2 separate regions of the Homo sapiens genome follow, and region 2 is linked to region 1. Evidence: fine-mapped expression QTL. A gene starts in region 1. The other region holds a variant in brackets. All regions are shown on one strand. Distances are from middle to middle.

Region 1 (9,134 bases):
CCCGAGTTCATCTCCCTGCCCGTGGGCACCGTGGAGAACCAGCAGGGCCAGGACATTGACGACAACTGGGTGAAAGACAGAAAAAAGGAGTTTGAGGAGCTCATTGACTCCAACCACGACGGCATCGTGACCGCCGAGGAGCTGGAGGTGAGCCCTGGCGCAGCCGTGTCCCGGAGCCGGCCCTGCGAGGTGCTGTGGCGGGAGGGGCTGGTGGATCTGGGCCTGAGGCAGGAAGCTGTGCTGGTGTCTGGCCTGAGACTCCATCTGGGCTGGTCACTGGGGCGTTTGCTCAGCGGTGTCCACCAGGCTGCATGGCCGTTGTTGGCGTTTAGGTTCAGACGGATCAGAGACAGGCGAGCCTGGCCGGGCTCCATCCTCAGCCCCTTGCGGAGGCGTCAGGGTTCTCACAGCCCCTTTTTAACGGGACCACAAGGGGAAGCTCATGCTGGGCCCAGCATGGAGGCAGGTCCAAGGCCCAGCAGGTGCAGGTGGGCGGGGCGGCCTGTGCCACATGGCTGGAATTTACCACCTTCCTCTGAAGCGTTTTCACTGGTATCATGTGTAGGCTTGTTTTTCTCCCACTGCTGAGTGAGTCATCTTGTTTTTATGTAGAATCCTGTGATTCCTGGCGACAGCCAGTGGGCCCGGCCCAGGTTAGGGATCCTTCAGAACTGGGGTCCAGGCCTGTGTAGCCCCTGTGCCCCGTTACCCCTGCTGGCCCCGGGCAGGCCTTCCGGGGCCCCCGGCTTCTCCCTGCCCTGTGTTTTCATTTGTGCCGCCTCCCTTCGGGAACCTTCCAGAACGTGCCCACACTCCCGCTGCAGCCAATAGGCACCTTAAATAGCCACTTCGTGCGGCTGGCCGCGGAGCTCGGAGGGGGAAAGGCGACGCTGACCTGTGCCCCGCTCGCCCGCAGAGCTACATGGACCCCATGAACGAGTACAACGCGCTGAACGAGGCCAAGCAGATGATCGCCGTCGCCGACGAGAACCAGAACCACCACCTGGAGCCCGAGGAGGTGCTCAAGTACAGCGAGTTCTTCACGGGCAGCAAGCTGGTGGACTACGCGCGCAGCGTGCACGAGGAGTTTTGAGCGCCCGGCCGCGCCCCGCGCCGCCCCCCACGCACCACCGGGGCGGCCTCGCGGGTGACTCCGGGCTCCGTGGCTGTCCCGGACCCCACCTCTTCCCTGCCGCCCGCCACCGGCCGACCGACCGCGGCTGCCCCAGTTGATGAGCGGCGTGTCCCCTCTGCAGCGCGCACCCCGGCGGGGCTTTGGCTGTGACGCGGTCGGGGCGCGGGGCTGGGCTGTGGCCCCGCGGCGCCGCCTCCTCCCTGGTCCCTCGAAATCGTGGCATCTCACTTCTGAGAACGAAATCTCGCTTCAGTCACTCTGCCGAAGGCGCTGACGGCATCGCGGCCGGAACCTCTGGGCCCGGCCCCTCCCAGGGCCGCCGCTCCGTGGGAAAAAACAGCTCCTCCATTTCCTTGAAAACTGAACGATTATTAAAAATAGATTAAACTTCGCTGGAAATGAGTAGCCAGGAAGTTCAGGGGAGGGTGCCGGGTCCTTCCCGGGCCTGGCGTGTCGGAGCCACCCAGGTCCCGCAGCTGCCGCTGAGAAAATGCAAATATTTGTTGTGACAAGAATCACATACATTTACTTTAAATATAGTTGCCTTTTTTGGTCAGCTTCATTCTTTGGGCGTGAAACAAAACACAACAGCAGCGTGCTAGGTTTGTGGTTACAGTTTCCACTGGAGCGCTGGAGGCTGGTGCTGGGTCACGTGGAGGGTTGGAGGTCATGGCCGGTTCGAGGTGATTCTCCTGGCAGGTGGCAACGGGCAGGGGCTCTGGGAGGACGGAGGGCAGCGCTGCGTTTGTGAGTAGGGGTCAGGGGGCAGCAGACGTGCCCACTGAGTTTGGGGTTTGGACATTTAAGGCAGGAGACAGAGCCGCCTGGGGGTTTTGGGTGGAGGATGGCAAGGTCTTTGGGTGCAGTGGGGCAGGCCTAGCCCCAGATGGGGCAGAGAATGGGGTGTGTTAGGACGGCTGGTGGGGGTCCTGCTCTGTGGCGTGTGGGGGCCCAGGCTGTGTCCTGGCTCTCCCAGTGGGAGCTCAGGGAAGCCGGGAGTGTGTCCTCTTCAGTCTGCCCTGTGGTGCCCATGTGACCGGCCTCTGCCCTGAGCCCACCTGCCCAGGGGCCCCTGTGGGGCCGAGAGGGCGGGTTGGCACCTGGGCTGGTTCCCAGGCAAACGAGATTCACAGAGCCACGGCCAGCGCAGGTGGTGGGAGGATGGTCCCACGCCCTGCTCTAAGGGGCTGTAATTCCCTGGAGCCAACCTTCGGTGGCCTGGACTCTGTCTTTCCCCATCCGTGGCCCCAGGCCACAGCCAGGGACCATCATAGCTGCAGCAGCATTCGACGCCCTGTGCTGAGGGCCGTGCACCCAGAGGTGGGAGGTGTGAGCTGAGGCCATGCTGTGCTGGACATGAAGGCGGGGGGACAGCTGGGTATGTGGTGGCACCTGGCCCTTCAGAGGCCCCAGCCAGCTCCAGTCTGGTACTGGAGGAGCAGTGGCCACTCATGGGCTGCCCTGTGCCGCCCGCGACACTACTGTGTGGAGCGGGGAGCCCAGCTCCTGGGGATGTGGTTCGAGCTGCAGGCTGCCTTACAGACCTTGGGGGTCCTGAGCTCTGGGTCAGTGTCCAGCCTCCTGTGGCCACGCCACACCCGGTTCCATGGACACAGCAGGGCTTTCTTGGACCTGTGACCTTAAGCCCAGGACAAGGAGACCTGAGCTTCCTGGGCAGCTTCAAGCAGGAGGGGCCGTGCCCCATCCTGGGGCCATTGCAGTTGCCAGCAATATGCTGGGGGTGCCCTCTCCATGGTGCACGGGCCCCACTCACTGCACCTGTGGGCAGATGTGGCCACTTAGGCCCCAGGAGAGCAGTGTTGCCCACCAAGACCCCCAGTTCACCTGAACCTCCAAGGAACCAATTGCAAATGTAAGCTTTTTCTCACTGTCAGTGGGAAACCCTTGTGAACGCTGGGTGGAACCTTCCACAAAATGCCAGAACTTTCCTCCTCTGCCCACCTGGGTTGGGGTGTGCACATGCAGGTACACACACTGTCTGGGATGCTCTGAGCCCTTCCAGGGTCCTCTCTACTTGTGGGGACGTGGGGAGGGTGACCAACTTAGGGACCCTCAGTCCGAGGGCGGGTGGCCTCTCCCTCCACTCCCTCCCTCTCCAGGGCCAGCGGGCTCCACGGCTGGGAATTTCCCCACGGGTGGGCCGAGGACAGGCAGCTGTTTCCTGTGCTCCTGGGAGGAGGGGATTTCCAGCCCCTTCCCTGCTGCTCTGTTCCTAGAGGCCCCTCTCCACTTGCAACTTCAAAAATGAACTTTTGGATAATCACAGGCTGGTCACAGTTATTTGAAAGGTGCAGAAAGGGCCCAGGGAGCCCCCAGCCCCGCACCTGCTCCCCAGCTCTCCGGGCAGTTCGCATCCTCTGGGCAAACCTGGAACCTGAGAACTGTTTGCATAGAAGGTGGAAACCTGCCTGCGTGCCCGTGTGCGCCAGGCCATCCAGGACCCACCCTCACCACCTCCTCAGAGGCCTGTCTCCAAACACTGCCACATGGGGGTTAGGGCTTCCACGCAGGAATTTAAGGGGCACAGTTCAGCCATAGACACCTGCCGTGCTCAGGCACACTCAGCGTGGGCTGTGGTCACGGGTGTCTTTTTTTTTTTTTTTGAGATGAGTCTCGCCCTGTCGCCCAGGCTGGAGTGCAGTGGCGCCACCTCTGCTTTGCAACTTCTGTCTCCTGGGTTCGAGTGATTCTGCTACCTCAGCCTCCTGACTAGCTGGGATTACCGGCGCCCGCCACCACGCCCGAATAATTTTTGTAGTTTTAGTAGAGACGGGATTTCGCCATGTTAGCCAGACTGGTCTTGAACTCCTGACCTCAGGTGATCCACCCGCCTTGGCCTCCCAAAGTGCTGGGATTACAGGCGGGAGCCACCGTGCCTGGCCATGGGTGTCTGTCTTACCATGGCTGTGGTCACTGCTGCTCAGAGCTAGTCTTGGGCATACAAGGGGGACCATGCTTCAGCAGTGCCACAGCCCTGAAGGTCCAGACTGAGGAGTTGCCTCTCCTGACTCAGTGCTGCCTCAGTTTACCCACGTGCTCCATGGACCTTTTTGCTGAGGGTCGAGCCGCAGGCCAGGCCCTACTGTGCCCTGGGGTCTGAACACGGTGGTCTTGGGCAGAAGAGGTCAGAAGGCAGAATAAGCCAATGCTGGGGGTGCCCAGACCCCGCCTTTGTGCCCAGCCCACAGCCAGGGTCCCCGGCCTGCCACCTTCCTCCTCCCGCCTCCTCTGCCCTCCTCCCCTCTCCCCTCCCCTCCTCCACAGTCCTTATAGCCACACCCCGCAAGGAAAACCCAGACTCTGGCGACAGCAGAGACGAGGATGTGCGTGGGGGCTCGGCGGCTGGGCCGCGGGCCGTGTGCGGCTCTGCTCCTCCTGGGCCTGGGGCTGAGCACCGTGACGGGGCTCCACTGTGTCGGGGACACCTACCCCAGCAACGACCGGTGCTGCCACGAGTGCAGGCCAGGTGAGGCCTCAGGAGGGGTCGCCACGCACGGGCACTCCAGGGACTGGGGGCTGGGGCAGGGATGGGCCAGCCAGGAGGCTGGTCCTGGGGAGGGGGCGGGTGAGGGGCCGGCCAAGCCTGGCAGAGGAGCCGCCTGGGGGGGTCCACGGGCGCAAGCCTGGGGCCTGACCGCTGCCTGACGCCGGCCTCTGCTGCAGGCAACGGGATGGTGAGCCGCTGCAGCCGCTCCCAGAACACGGTGTGCCGTCCGTGCGGGCCGGGCTTCTACAACGACGTGGTCAGCTCCAAGCCGTGCAAGCCCTGCACGTGGTGTAACCTCAGTGAGCTCCCACCTGGCCCCACAGCCCCACCCAGCACAGGGGGCGGCAGCCTGGCACCCACATTCCCACGCAGCAGCATGGGGCTCCCACAGCCGCAGAAACGAACCTCAAACCACAGCGGGGTCTGCTCCGCCACAGGGGTCCTTCGAGGAGCTGAGGCGTCTCCCAGGGGCACCCCCTCTCCCTCCGGGGGCCCAGACTCGGCCCAGGCCACGTGGAGTCGGGGAGACCACGCTGGCCATGTGGCCTGGCCTTGCTGGCCTGAGCAGTGAGGCTGGGGGGTTGGGCCATGGAGACCCTGCCGCAGGCGGGGCTGGCGGCTGGAGGCGGTGGAGGGGTAGGGAAGGGTGGCTGGGGCTGCCACGGAACCAGCCCCAGGTTGTGGCCAGGAAGGGAGGGCCCAGGAGCCTCGGGGGCTGCAGGGGCTCCAAGTCTCAGGGGAGGCCGCAGACCCCTGCCCACGGCCCTCTGTGTGGTGGGGAGGCCAACCTGTCCTCCAGTGCCCACGCTTCCTGAGGACCCTGTCCACAGCCCCCACCTGACCACCCCCCCATCCGGCCCCTGCTCAGGAAGTGGGAGTGAGCGGAAGCAGCTGTGCACGGCCACACAGGACACAGTCTGCCGCTGCCGGGCGGGCACCCAGCCCCTGGACAGCTACAAGCCTGGAGTTGGTGAGCTCGGTGGCTGCGGCCGGCGGTTGGGGGTGTGCATAGCGGCTGTCTGTGACGCAGATGGGCCGTGGGCCGCAGGGACCTGGCCCCACCGGTGCCTCCTCTGGCATCCTCAAGACCGAGCTCCCGGGTCAGGGCCCACGGGTGGGATGTGGGCAGGGAGGGCTTCCAGAGGCCAAACCCACCACCCAGCCATGGGGGGCAAGTGCCTGCCCCACAGGCTCTGCCCCATGTCCCCAGCACCCGGGGCCTGTGGGCAGCCCCTGACCACCCTATCTTTGTTGCAGACTGTGCCCCCTGCCCTCCAGGGCACTTCTCCCCAGGCGACAACCAGGCCTGCAAGCCCTGGACCAAGTGAGGGGCCTGGCCAGGGGCTGGGAGGGGCTGGGGGGGGGTTGGGGTGGTTAGGAGGGCGGAGGAGCTGGGGAGCTGGGAGGGGCTGGGGGGGCAGGTGGGGTGGGGGCAGTTTTGGGGGAAGGGGAGGTGCTGGTGGCCCTGGGGGCCTGGCTATGTGGCTGGACCTGGTTGGGGAGCAGGAAGCTGCTGCCTGGGGGCAGCCTTTCCCTGTGGGTGGAGCTGGGTGTGTGGGACCCTCACCCTCCGCAGCTGGGAGGCCCTGGGGGCACAGGACAGGGAGGTGCTGGTGGGGGGTGTAGATGTGGGAGAAGGGTGTGTGGCCTTGGAGGCCCCTGTGGGGGGCACGTGGGGCTGGGCAGCGTCCTTGGCTGTCACTGGCCTGGTGTCTGTGGTAGATGCTGCCTGTGGCTGGCCAGCGTGGACCCTGTTATCCCCACCGCATCTCCCGGGTCCCAGGGGGTTTCTGGCCTGAGCAACACCTCCTGTTCCCCAACAGCTGCACCTTGGCTGGGAAGCACACCCTGCAGCCGGCCAGCAATAGCTCGGACGCAATCTGTGAGGACAGGGACCCCCCAGCCACGCAGCCCCAGGAGACCCAGGGCCCCCCGGCCAGGCCCATCACTGTCCAGCCCACTGAAGCCTGGCCCAGAACCTCACAGGGACCCTCCACCCGGCCCGTGGAGGTCCCCGGGGGTAAGGGCGCCTGGCCCAGCCCAGCGGGGCCCCCAACCCGAATAGGAGAAGGGGAGGGCGGCATGGGGGCCCCTCCTGTGGACCCCACCCAGCAGACCCCTTCCTGCAGGCCGTGCGGTTGCCGCCATCCTGGGCCTGGGCCTGGTGCTGGGGCTGCTGGGCCCCCTGGCCATCCTGCTGGCCCTGTACCTGCTCCGGAGGGACCAGAGGCTGCCCCCCGATGCCCACAAGCCCCCTGGTGAGTGCCTCATGGCCCTGCCGCACTGCTCCTGGCGGGTGAGGCCCACCCACCAATCTCTCCTTTTTTCCTCCCCAGGGGGAGGCAGTTTCCGGACCCCCATCCAAGAGGAGCAGGCCGACGCCCACTCCACCCTGGCCAAGATCTGACCTGGGCCCACCAAGGTGGACGCTGGGCCCCGCCAGGCTGGAGCCCGGAGGGTCTGCTGGGCGAGCAGGGCAGGTGCAGGCCGCCTGCCCCGCCACGCTCCTGGGCCAACTCTGCACCGTTCTAGGTGCCGATGGCTGCCTCCGGCTCTCTGCTTACGTATGCCATGCATACCTCCTGCCCCGCGGGACCACAATAAAAACCTTGGCAGACGGGAGTCTCCGACCGGCACTGTGGGCTGCACACCTGTGGCATGGAGGCTTGGGCCGTGCCCGCCTCTGACTGGAGAGGGGTCTTGGGAGGCTTGGGCCGTGCCCGCCTCTGGCTGGACAGGGGTCTTGGGAGGCTTGGGCCGTGCCCGCCTCTGGCTGGAGAGGGGTCTTGGGAGACTTGGGCCGTGCCAACCTGTGGCTGGAAAGGGGTCTTGGGAGACTTGGGCCGTGCCAACCTGTGGCTGGAGAGGGGTCTTGGGAGACTTGGGCTGTGCCAACCTGTGGCTGGAGAGGGGTCTTGGGCCAGGGTGGAGGTGAGGGTAGCGGGGTCAAGTGGGACCCTGGAGGTTGGTCCCTGGGTGCGAGTTCCAGATTGAGTGGGGAGCGGGGGGAGAGACTGGGAAAGCTCAGGCCCAAGGCTGCCTGGGGTGGAGGTTCCTGGCCAGGCGCTGACAAGGGCAGCTGGCCCCTGAGCCCCGGGTTGCCCAAGGAGCTTGGGAGTGGCTGACCCCCGGGGCTCTGTGTCCTTGGAGGAGGAGTGTAGAGACCTGCCCCTCTTCCCCTCCACACCTACGCCCACCCCTTGCTGCACCTGGAAGGGGGTCCCAGGGCCCCTGAGCACCCCGAGGAGTCCCTGCAAAGGGCCCACACGGCCCCTATGTCCCTGCCATAGGTGTCCAGGGGGACAGTCACCTTGGAAACCACAGTTTCTGCTTGAGCCAACTTTCTGTCCACCCTGGGCCCCGGCCGTCCCACTCCTGCGCACTTAAGAGTCCTGGGATCTGAATGAGAATGACCACAGCGACTTCATGTAACGTGGCCCCACAGTGGAGAAACCCAGGCATCCGCCAGCAGCGTGGATGCGCGAGTGCTGGCGTGTTCAGATGAGCTCCCAGCTCCTCGGCCCACACCACAGGTGTCCACAGACGCTCCCAAGGCCCTGGGGCCGTCCCCGGCCGTGCGGGAATCTTCTCAAGCTGGTGTCTGGGAGTGGGGTATCCTTCGAGCAGCACAGAGCCTGCTCCCGAGCGCCAGTCACGCCCGAGGCCACAGCTCGGGAACAAGGCGGGAGCAGCCCTGCAGGCTTCCCGCAGGGAAGACACCCCGGGCGTCTAAGCGACATCTGTGTCCCTCGGGAGGCGGAGGTGCCTGTTCGCCTCCATGGTGTCAGGGGCTGAAGAGAAACACTCCCGAGGGCTAAGACGTCTCACTGCACTTGTTTTTTCTTTCTTTTTTTTTTTTTGCCGGAGTCTTGCTGTGTCACCCAGGCTGGAGTGCAGTGGTGTGATCTCAGCTCACCAACCTCTGCCTCCCGGGTTCACGCCATTCTCCTGCCTCAGCCTCCCAAGTAGCTGGGACTACAGGCGCCCAGCACCACACCCGGCTAATTTTTGTATTTTATTAGAGACAGGGTTTCACCATGTTGGCTAAGCTGGTCTTGAACTCCTGACCTCAGGTGATCCACCTGCCTCGGTGCCCTGGAGTACTGCGATTCCAGGTGTGAGCCACCACGCCTGGCCCTCACTGCACTCATGAGCAAGAAACACACAGCCGAGGCCGGTCACGGTGGCTCACGCCTAGAATCCTAGCACTTTGGGAGGCTGAGGCCAGACGATCGTCTGAGCTCAGGAGTTTGAGACCCGCCTGGGTAACATGGCAAGACCCTTTTCTATGAAAAATAGAAAAAATCAGCCGGGTGTGGTGGTGCATGCCTGTGGTCCCGGCTACTTGGGAGGCCGAGGTGGGAGGATCACTTGAGCCCAAGAGATGGAGGCTGCAGTGAGACGTGACTGGAAAAAAAAAAAGAAATTTAAAAAAATTACTTAAGAAGAAACACATGAAGCCTCATGGAAGGTTTTGCTGAGGGCCTGGCA
Region 2 (9,134 bases), 38 kb before region 1:
CTCTGTGGCCTCGTGTTCCCCGCTGCCTCTCGGTCTTGCTTTTATCCACATCCAGCCTCATCCACACCCGCCAGGGGCTCCTCCTTGGGATCTTGGGGTGGGCCAAGGCGGTACCAGTTGCACAGACGGCCCGGGCCTTGTCAGCGGGGAGCCCGGTGCTTTGGTGGCTTGTTTTTCCCTGTCTTTAATAGGAATCAAGTGTGATATCATGAATTGATGGGGGGAAGATTAAGAAGGCTTTGTAAGACTATAAGTTAGTTTGCTGTGAAGAGTGTGCTTATTAAATGCTTTCTGCAACACGAAGACTGCAGCCCTTGACTTTGAAATCATCTGTTTTTAGAATCTTGAAAGAATTGAAATTAGTTTTCTGGCTGATTCCCTTCCCTTCCTTCCTAGAAAAGACAACTGGCAGTGCAGAGTTTAGCATTTAATTTGAAAGATAAAGTCTTTTGTGAATTATTTCCTGAAGTCGTGGAGGTAAGAAAGACGGAAGTGGGTTTCGCCTTCCCCTGCGTTAAAACACTTGAGTTTCACCTCTTTCCAAAGAGTAAAATCTGTGTCCTGAAGCTGCAGACCTCCCCAGGGGATGGCTCCTCTCCCCCAGGAGCCCCGAGGCAGGGGAGGCAGAAAGCCTGGGCTCTGGGGGGTGGCCTGCGGACAGCTGTGCTGGTGGGCCGGGGGCTGGGCCTGTCCCACAGGGGCGTGGAGCTCGTGGTTCTGAGCAGCCAGCTGGGTGGTGTCTGGGGATAGCTGGGAGGCACAGCGGCTGCCATGTGGGACTGGGACTGGAGTGCTCCCTGGTCTTGGCCTCTGTGGCTCAGCCTTGCTCTGGTCTGCCTGAGTGCAGGGGCCAAGGGGCACAGGGCCAGTGAGGCCGGCCACGCTCGGGCCCTCACCTGTGAGATGGGGTCGGAATTTGACACAGCCTAGGGCTTGGTTCTTGGTGGTGGACCGTGGACTCCTGAGAACGGGAGTGCTGGTCCTGAAAGGCGCTGGTTGGAGACCAGCTGCTTTTCTCGCTGTTTTTCTCTTAGGAGATTAAACAAAAACAGAAAGCACAAGACGAACTCAGTAGCAGACCCCAGACTCTCCCCTTGCCAGACGTGGTTCCAGACGGGGAGACGCACCTCGTCCAGAACGGGATTCAGCTGCTCAACGGGCATGCGCCGGGGGCCGTCCCAAACCTCGCAGGGCTCCAGCAGGCCAACCGGCACCACGGACTCCTGGGTGGCGCCCTGGCGAACTTGTTTGTGATAGTTGGGTTTGCAGCCTTTGCTTACACGGTCAAGTACGTGCTGAGGAGCATCGCGCAGGAGTGAGGCCCAGGCGCCGAGACCCAAGGCGCCACTGAGGGCACCGCGCACCAGAGCGTGACCTCGGCAGGCTGGACACACTGCCCAGCACAGGCAGACCCACCAGGCTCCTAGGTTTAGCTTTTAAAAACCTGAAAGGGGAAGCAAAAACCAAAATGTGTGACTGGGCTTTGGAGGAGACTGGAGCCTCAGCCCTGTCCTGGCCACGGGCCGCTGGGGCTGGTGTGGGTGGGCCTTGTGTGCTGGATTTGTAGCTTATCTTCCGTGTTGTCTTTGGACCTGTTTTAGTAAACCCGTTTTTCATTTTATTAGATGTGGTCACTTAGAAATGCAAACTTGCTGCCGACCGCGGGCTGCTCCTGCGTTCTTGGAGCTCCTGGCGCGTTTCTCGGAGCTCCCGGCTCCTCAGCGGGTGGGAACCTCGGGGCCCAGGGGTGGAGCTGGCGTCCGCGGGTGCTGGTCTGGCCTGGCCGTGTGGTGATGAGGCTTAGCGGGGCCAGTGACGGCCGTGGCTCAGGATCCATAAGTCGGGGTTTGGTCTCAGCATTTACAAATGTGTTTACAGTCAGAATGAAACACATTCCTTCTAGAAAGTGCTTGGGGGTTTTTGCTGCCCTGGAAGCCAGGAGCCTGCTCACTCCAACCACAAGTCGCCCTTGACTGCGGCGGCCGCGAGCGGGGCGGGGGCTGCCGGTGCCCTCCGCAGGCCGGGCCTCCTGGGCGCCCCTCGGTGCTGCAGGCTGGGGGGCCTTGGGTACCTGCAGAGCCTTTTCTCTGAATTCCTTATGTCCGGTGGGCCAGAAGCCCGTCCTCCTATGCTGGTGGAAGGCGGAGGACCGGAGTCCCTGCAGAAGGCCCCGTGCACTCGGGGGCCTCCCTCACATCCCGTGCCCCCTGCGCTGGCCTTCACAGTAGGTAATGGCTCCGGCCCGGGTGTTCGCTGTCCACGGAACATGGCAGAGGGGCACCCCGGCCCGGAAAGACGCCAGAGCCAGCAGGGGCTGTTTCGGGCCGCGTGGCTCCCCGGGTCTCGGCCGTCTCCCCTCTTCTGCGTCTGTTCCGTGACTTCGCCTGGGTGGGATGTACCGCAGGTGCATCGCGTCGAGGTGGGGCACGGCCGCCGGCAAGAAACCCACCCTGTCCGGAGGCGGGCGTGAGACAAGCCCAGCCCGCACGCGCTCATCTTTCTTCGTTTTTTGATCAGTTTATTCAGAATTGCTCTATAATTTACCAATTGTATGTATTTAACCTATTCTTGTGGAAAAAAAAGGTCTTTCATTATATCTTTATTTCTGAATTTCATGCTGCTTGTGTCTGTGTGGGCCGGGATGTGTGTCCATCTCTGTGCTCAGGGCTGGGGTGGCCCGTGACCAGGGGGTCACACCTGCTGGCCTGGGGTGGTGTGGCAGCTGCAGGGCAGGTGGGTCCCCACAGGGAATCGCGTCGCTGGAGCCATGGTGTAGAGCCCTCTGCAGGGCTCTCTCCCCATCCCGTACTGGATGCCAGCCCTGCCCTGATCTCCGCTTCTGTGACCGCCAGCATCACTTCCAAAGCCCGGTGTCTCCCGAGGCTCATGGGAGGGGGAATGCTAACGAATAGAGTGTTTACTCAACACGCTACTGCCGGGTGCAGTGGCTGCCGCCTATAATCCCAGCACTTTGGGAGGCTGAGGGGTGGATCTCTTGAACCCAGCCTGGGCAATGTAGTGAGACCCCATCTCACAAAAAATACAAAACACTACCTGGTGTGGTGATGTGCACCTTTGGTCCCAGCTACTCAGGAGGCTGAGGTGGGAGGATTGCCTGAGCCCGGCAGGTGGAGGCTACAGTGAGCCATGATGGAGCCACCGCAATCCAGCCTGGGCAGCGAAGCCAGACCCTGTCTCAAATGTCGTCTAGATGTGAAATCTCAACTTTGTTTTTTTGTTTTTTGGAGACAAAGTCTTGCTCTGTTGTTGCCCAGTGTGGAGTGCAATGGTGCTATCATGGCTCCCTGTAACTGCAGGGTCCAGCCCTACTGGGCCTGTGGGTTCTTCTTGTGTACGGAGAGATGTGAGATCATAGAAATAAAGACACAAGACAGGGATAGAAGAAAAGACAGCTGGGCCCGGGGGACCACTACCACCTAGATGTGGAGGCCGGTAGTGGCCCCGAATGCCTGGCTGCGCTGTTATTTATTGGATACAAGGCAAGGGGGCAGGGTAAGGAGCGTGAGCCATCTCTAATGATAGGTAAGGTCACGTGTGTCTCGTGTCCACTGGACAGGGGGCCCTTCCCTGTTTGGCAGCCGAGGCGGAGAGAGAGAGAGGACAGCTTACACCATTCTTTCTTCTATGTATTTCAAAGACTTTTAGTACTTTCACTCATTGTGCTACTGCTATCTAGAAGGCGGAGCCCGGTGTACAGGGCGGACCACGAAAGCAGACCAGGAGTGTGACCGCTGAAGCACAGCATCACGGGGAGACGGGCCTCTGGATGGCTGCGGGTGGGCCTGACTGATGTCGCCTTGCACAAGAGATGGTGGAGCAGAGTCTTCTCTAACTCCCCCGGGGAAAAGGAGACTCCCTTTCCCCGTCTGCTAAGTAACTGGTGCCTT[G/C]CCAGGCGCTAGCGCTACCGCTAGACCAGGGACCCCTCTGGTGGCCCTGTCCGGGCGTGACAGAGGGCTCACACTCTTGTCTCCTGGTCACTTCTCACTATGTCCCCTCAGCTCCTATCTCTGTATGGCCTGGTTTTTCCTAGGTTATAGTTGTAGAACAGAGATTATTATAATATTGGAATGAAGAGTAATGCTAGAAACTAATGATTAAGAATATTCATATATCATCACATCTATAATCTATTTCTAGTGTAACTATTCTTATTGTGTATATTTTCTTTATTACACTGGAACAGCTCATGCCCTCGGTCTCTTGCCTCGGCACCTGGGTGGCTTGCCGCCCACATGTAACGGTGACCTCCTGGGCTCAAGGGATCCTCCAAACTCAGCCCCCTACATATCTGGGACCGCAAGTGTGCGCCACCATGCCTGGCTAATTTTTGTATTTTTTGTAGAGATGGAGTTTCGTCATGTTGCGCAGGCTGGTCTTGAACTCCTGAGCTCAAGGGATCCACCTGCCTCGGCCTCCCAAAGTGTTAGGATCACAGGCGTGAGCCACCGCGCCCGACTAAAATCTCAACTTTTTTTTTTTTTTTGAGACGGAGTCTTGCTCTGTCGCCCAGGCTGGAGTACAGTGGCGTGATCTCTGCTCACTGTGACCTCTGCCTCCTGGGTTCAAGTGATTCTCCTGCCTCAGCCTCCCAAGTAGCTGGGATTACAGGTGCCTGCCACCACACCCAGCTAATTTTAAGTAGAGACGGGGTTTCACCATATTGGCCAGGCTGGTCTGAAACTCCTGACCTCGTGATCTGCTTGCCTCAGCCTCCCAAAGTGCTGGGATTACAGGCGTGAGCCACCACGCCCAACTGAAATCTCAACTTTTAGCGATCATCGGTCAAGCAGTGAAGGTGGTGCCCGTGGCATGTTGTCCGCACTGGCCCAAAATAAAAAATGATGTTTGGGCCGGGCGTGGTGGCTCACTCCTGTAATCCCAGCGCTTTGGGAGGCTGAGGTGGGCAGATTACCTGAGGTCAGGAGTTCGAGACCAGCCTGGCCAACATGGTGAAACCCTGTCTCTACTGAAAATACAAAATTAGCCGGGCATGGTGGCATGTGCTTGTAATCCCAGCTACTCAGGAGGCTGAGGCAGGAGAATCACTCGAGTCCAGGAGGTGGAGGTTGCAGTGAGCCAAGATCGTGCCACTGCTCTCCAGCCTGGCTGACAGAGTGAGACTCTGTCTAAAAAAAAAAAAAAAATGATGTTTGGCCTGTTGGGCCGGGCACGTCTGACCCTCTGTCCCCGTCTCCCTTAGAGGAATCGTGGGCCCCTCTGTTCTTGTGTTGTCACCGGTGGAGGCCGTCCTTGACTTCCCCCTGGGAGCACGGTGTGTCCCCTCGCCATGCAGAGCACACTGTGAAGTCTTTTAATGAGGAGAGAAAAGCCCCTTAAAAGTTGATATTCTGCAGACAGGTGAGCACGTGGCCTCGTGGTCACAGGAAAGAAGAGGCGTTTCCTGTGTTCTGGCAACCTCGAGCTTCTCTGTGAGCGCATGCCCAGGCCTGCCTGAGTGCTGATGAACCAGCCGGCACAGCAGAGCACTCCGGGTCTGAGGGAGCTGCTCTCCCTGCAGCAGGCGGCTGGGCAGGGCACCGTGGTCCTTTGCCATTTTTCCAGGGCCGGGGGGTGTCAGGGTGTCTGCGTTGGGGGGTGCAGGGGGTGAGCAGAGCCAGCAGCTGCACCTGAGCCTCCCCTTGTGAGCAGCTCGTGGCTGTGGCCCAGGGTACCCTGGATCCTTGGTGGGTGACCCAGAGGGTGGGGTCCTCTTGGTCGTCTTCTAGAGGGAGCATGGGGGCTGAGTGTTCCTGCCTGGGTGCCAGGCTCAGCTCATTTTAAAGGTGCCTGGGGTTGGGAACACGAAGCCACATCCTTCCCAGTTAGGCCCAGCCTCCCAGGGTGAGGGCAGCAAGTCACCCAGGTGCCGAGGGAAGAGACCGAGGGCACAAGCTGTCCCAGTGTAACAAAATATATAAAATAAGAGTTATACTTGGTATAGACCATATGTGTCACTAATCATTAGTTTGTAGTAATTATTCTTTATTCCAATATTATAATAATCCTCGCTCTATAATCATAATCTAGGAAAAACCAGGCCATACCGAGATAGGAGCTGAGGGGACATGGTGAGAAGTGACCAGAAGACAAGAGTGCGAGCCTTCCGTTACGCCCGGACAGGGCCACCAGAGGGCTCCTTGGTCTAGCAGTAACGCCAGCGCCTGGGAAGGCACCCGTGACCTAAGCAGACCGTGGTCTAGCGGTAGCGTCAGTGTCAAGGGAAAACACCCGCTACTTAGCAGACTGGGAAGGGGAGTCTCCCTTTCCCCGGGGGAGTTTAGAGAAGACTCTACTCCTCCACCTCTTGTGGAGGGTCAGGCCCACCCACAGTTATCCGAAGGCCTAACCGTCTCCCTATGATGCTGTGCTTCAGCGGTCACACTCCTAGTCCGCCTTCACGTTCCATCCTGTACACCTGGCTTTGCCTTTTAGATAACAGTAGCAAAATTAGTGAAAGTACTAAAAGTCTCTGATAAGCAGAAATAATGGCGTAAGCTGTCTCTCTCTCTCCCTGGCCCCTGCCTTGGCTGCCAAACAGGGAAGGGCCCCCGTCCAGTGGACACGTGACCCACGTGACTTTACCTATCACTGGAGATGGCTCACGCTCCTTATCCTGCCCCTTTGTCTTGTATCCAATAAATAACAGCGCAGCCTGGCATTCGGGGCCACTACCGGTCTCCACATCTTGGTGGTAGTGGTCCCCCGGGCCCAGCTGTCTTTTTTATTTCTTTGTGTTGTATCTTTATTTCTACGATCTCTCATCTCCGCACACGGGGAGAAAAACCCACAAACCCTGTAGGGCTGCCCTCTACACCAGGGCTGCCCGTTTTCCTGCCTGTAGGGCAGAGGGGGAGGCCCAGCCTCCCTCGGTCTAGCCTCCCAGGGCTGCCCGTGTCCCGGCCTGTAGGGCGGAGTGGGAGGCCCAGCCTCCCTCGGTCCAGCCTCCCAGGGCTGCCCGTGTCCCGGCCTGTAGGGCGGAGTGGGAGGCCCAGCCTCCCTCGGTCCAGCCTCCCAGGGCTGCCCGTGTCCCGGCCTGTAGGGCGGAGTGGGAGGCCCAGCCTCCCTCGGTCCAGCCTCCCAGGGCTGCCCGTGTCCCGGCCTGTAGGGCGGAGTGGGAGGCCCAGCCTCCCTCGGTCCAGCCTCCCAGGGCTGCCCGTGTCCCGGCCTGTAGGGCGGAGTGGGAGGCCCAGCCTCCCTCGGTCCAGCCTCCCAGGGCTGCCCGTGTCCCGGCCTGTAGGGCGGAGTGGGAGGCCCAGCCTCCCTCGGTCCAGCCTCCCAGGGCTGCCCGTGTCCCGGCCTGTAGGGCGGAGTGGGAGGCCCAGCCTCCCTCGGTCCAGCCTCCCAGGGCTGCCCGTGTCCCGGCCTGTAGGGCGGAGTGGGAGGCCCAGCCTCCCTCGGTCCAGCCTCCCAGGGCTGCCCGTGTCCCGGCCTGTAGGGCGGAGTGGGAGGCCCAGCCTCCCTCGCTCCAGCCTCCCAGGGCTGCCCGTGTCCCGGCCTGTAGGGCGGAGTGGGAGGCCCAGCCTCCCTCGCTCCAGCCTCCCAGGGCTGCCCGTGTCCCGGCCTGTAGGGCGGAGTGGGAGGCCCAGCCTCCCTCGCTCCAGCCTCCCAGGGCTGCCCGTTTTCCTGCCTGTAGGGTAGAGTGGGAAGTCCAGCCTCCCTCGGTCCAGCCTCCCAGGGCTGCCCGTTTTCCTGCCTGTAGGGCAGAGTGGGAGGCCCAGCCTCCCTCGGTCTAGCCTCCCAGGGCTGCCCGTGTCCCGGCCTGTAGGGCGGAGTGGGAGGCCCAGCCTCCCTTGCTCCAGCCTCCCAGGGCTGCCTGTGTCCCGGCCTGTAGGGCAGAGTGGGAGGCCCAGCCTCCCTCGGTCCAGCCTCCCAGGGCTGCCTGTTTTCCTGCCTGTAGGGTAGATTGGGAAGTCCAGCCTCCCTTGGTCCAGCCTCCCAGGGCTGCCCGTTTTCCTGCCTGTAGGGCAGAGTGGGAGGCCCAGCCTCCCTCGGTCTAGCCTCCCAGGGCTGCCTGTGTCCCGGCCTATAGGGCAGAGTGGGAGGCCCAGCCTCCCTCGGTCCAGCCTCCCAGGGCTGCCTGTTTTCCTGCCTGTAGGGTAGAGTGGGAAGTCCAGCCTCCCTTGGTCCAGCCTCCCAGGGCTGCCCGTTTTCCTGCCTGTAGGGCAGAGGGGGAGGCCCAGCCTCCCTCGGTACAGCCTCCCAGGGCTGCCTGTGTCCCGGCCTGTAGGGTAGATGGGAGGCCCAGCCTCCCTCGGTCTAGCCTCCCAGGGCTGCCCGTGTCCTGGCCTGTAGGGTGGAGTGGGAGGCCCAGCCTCCCTCGGTCCAGCCTCCCAGGGCTGCCCATTTTCCTGCGTGTAGGCCTGAGTGGGAAGTCCAGCCTCCCTCAGTCCAGCCTCCCAGGGCTGCCCACTTTCCTGCCTGTAGGTCAGAGTTGGAGATCCAGCCTGTTCTGTCTAGAGTCACAGGGGAGCTCATTGCCAGTGGGTGACAGAGAAAATTTGGATGCCCTGCCTGTGAGGAGGGGTCTGGTAGCCCTGGGCGGGGGGTCTCCTTGGCCAGGGCACCTGCCCACCCCTCCCTTTGCCCCAAGCCTGGATTGAGGGGTGTTGGGGCTGCCTTTCCCGACCCATGCTAGATGCAGGCCACATCCAGGGCTCACCTGCGGGGGTCCAGCAGGGCTGGTACTGTGTGGGCGCTGTGCCGTGTCCCCAGGGTCCTCCACCACCTTCACGAGCGGACACGGGGCCGGGAGGCTTCCACAGTGCTCTCTGGAGATGCCAGTCAGTGCCTGAGAGCCCGGAGGGCGAGGGGGCAGCCGGGGTCCCTGGTGGGTTCCCAAGCGTCATCCCCATCCCAGCCTGGTCTCCCGTGGCTCTGCCTGTGGATGTGGCCTGGGGCTGGGGTTGACGCTGGGGTCTCGGCGTGGCTACCTTCGTGTCTGGCAAGAGGGGAGGGTCTGGAGTGTTCCGAGCTGTCCATCAGGGCCGGCATGTTGACCTTGGGCCACTGTTAGCCTCGGCCAGGACCAGCGGCTGGAGGGTCTTCCAGCCCCACCTGGCCACCCCATTCCTCCAGCCACTGAGCCCAAGGGGCCTGTCGCCATGATCTGGCCT

The links. PIP is the estimated chance that this variant, and not a neighbour inherited with it, causes the effect.
Region 2: its variant is the best candidate, but not a certain one, in a credible set for the expression of TNFRSF4 in whole blood (INTERVAL, PIP 0.79).

The regions. Positions count from the first base shown.
Region 1 is chr1:1,209,471-1,218,604 of GRCh38, reverse strand. TNFRSF4 (TNF receptor superfamily member 4) reads left to right here and starts at 4,452. Exons shown (of 7, transcript NM_003327.4): 1 at 4,452-4,622; 2 at 4,820-4,942; 3 at 5,512-5,613; 4 at 5,901-5,967; 5 at 6,467-6,663; 6 at 6,773-6,901; 7 at 6,980-7,265. The coding sequence starts at 4,478. The coding sequence ends at 7,050. SDF4 (stromal cell derived factor 4) reads left to right here. Exons shown (of 7, transcript NM_016176.6): 6 at 1-147; 7 at 917-1,674. The coding sequence ends at 1,093. RefSeq lists a silencer at 5,325-5,374.
Region 2 is chr1:1,247,388-1,256,521 of GRCh38, reverse strand. UBE2J2 (ubiquitin conjugating enzyme E2 J2) reads left to right here. Exons shown (of 7, transcript NM_058167.3): 6 at 397-477; 7 at 1,035-2,610. The coding sequence ends at 1,319. Among named protein-coding and RNA genes, the nearest start is that of C1QTNF12, 5.2 kb to the right of the region's middle. RefSeq lists enhancers at 5,089-5,368, 8,295-9,075, 9,076-9,134. The variant G/C (reference allele first, on the strand shown) is at 3,909.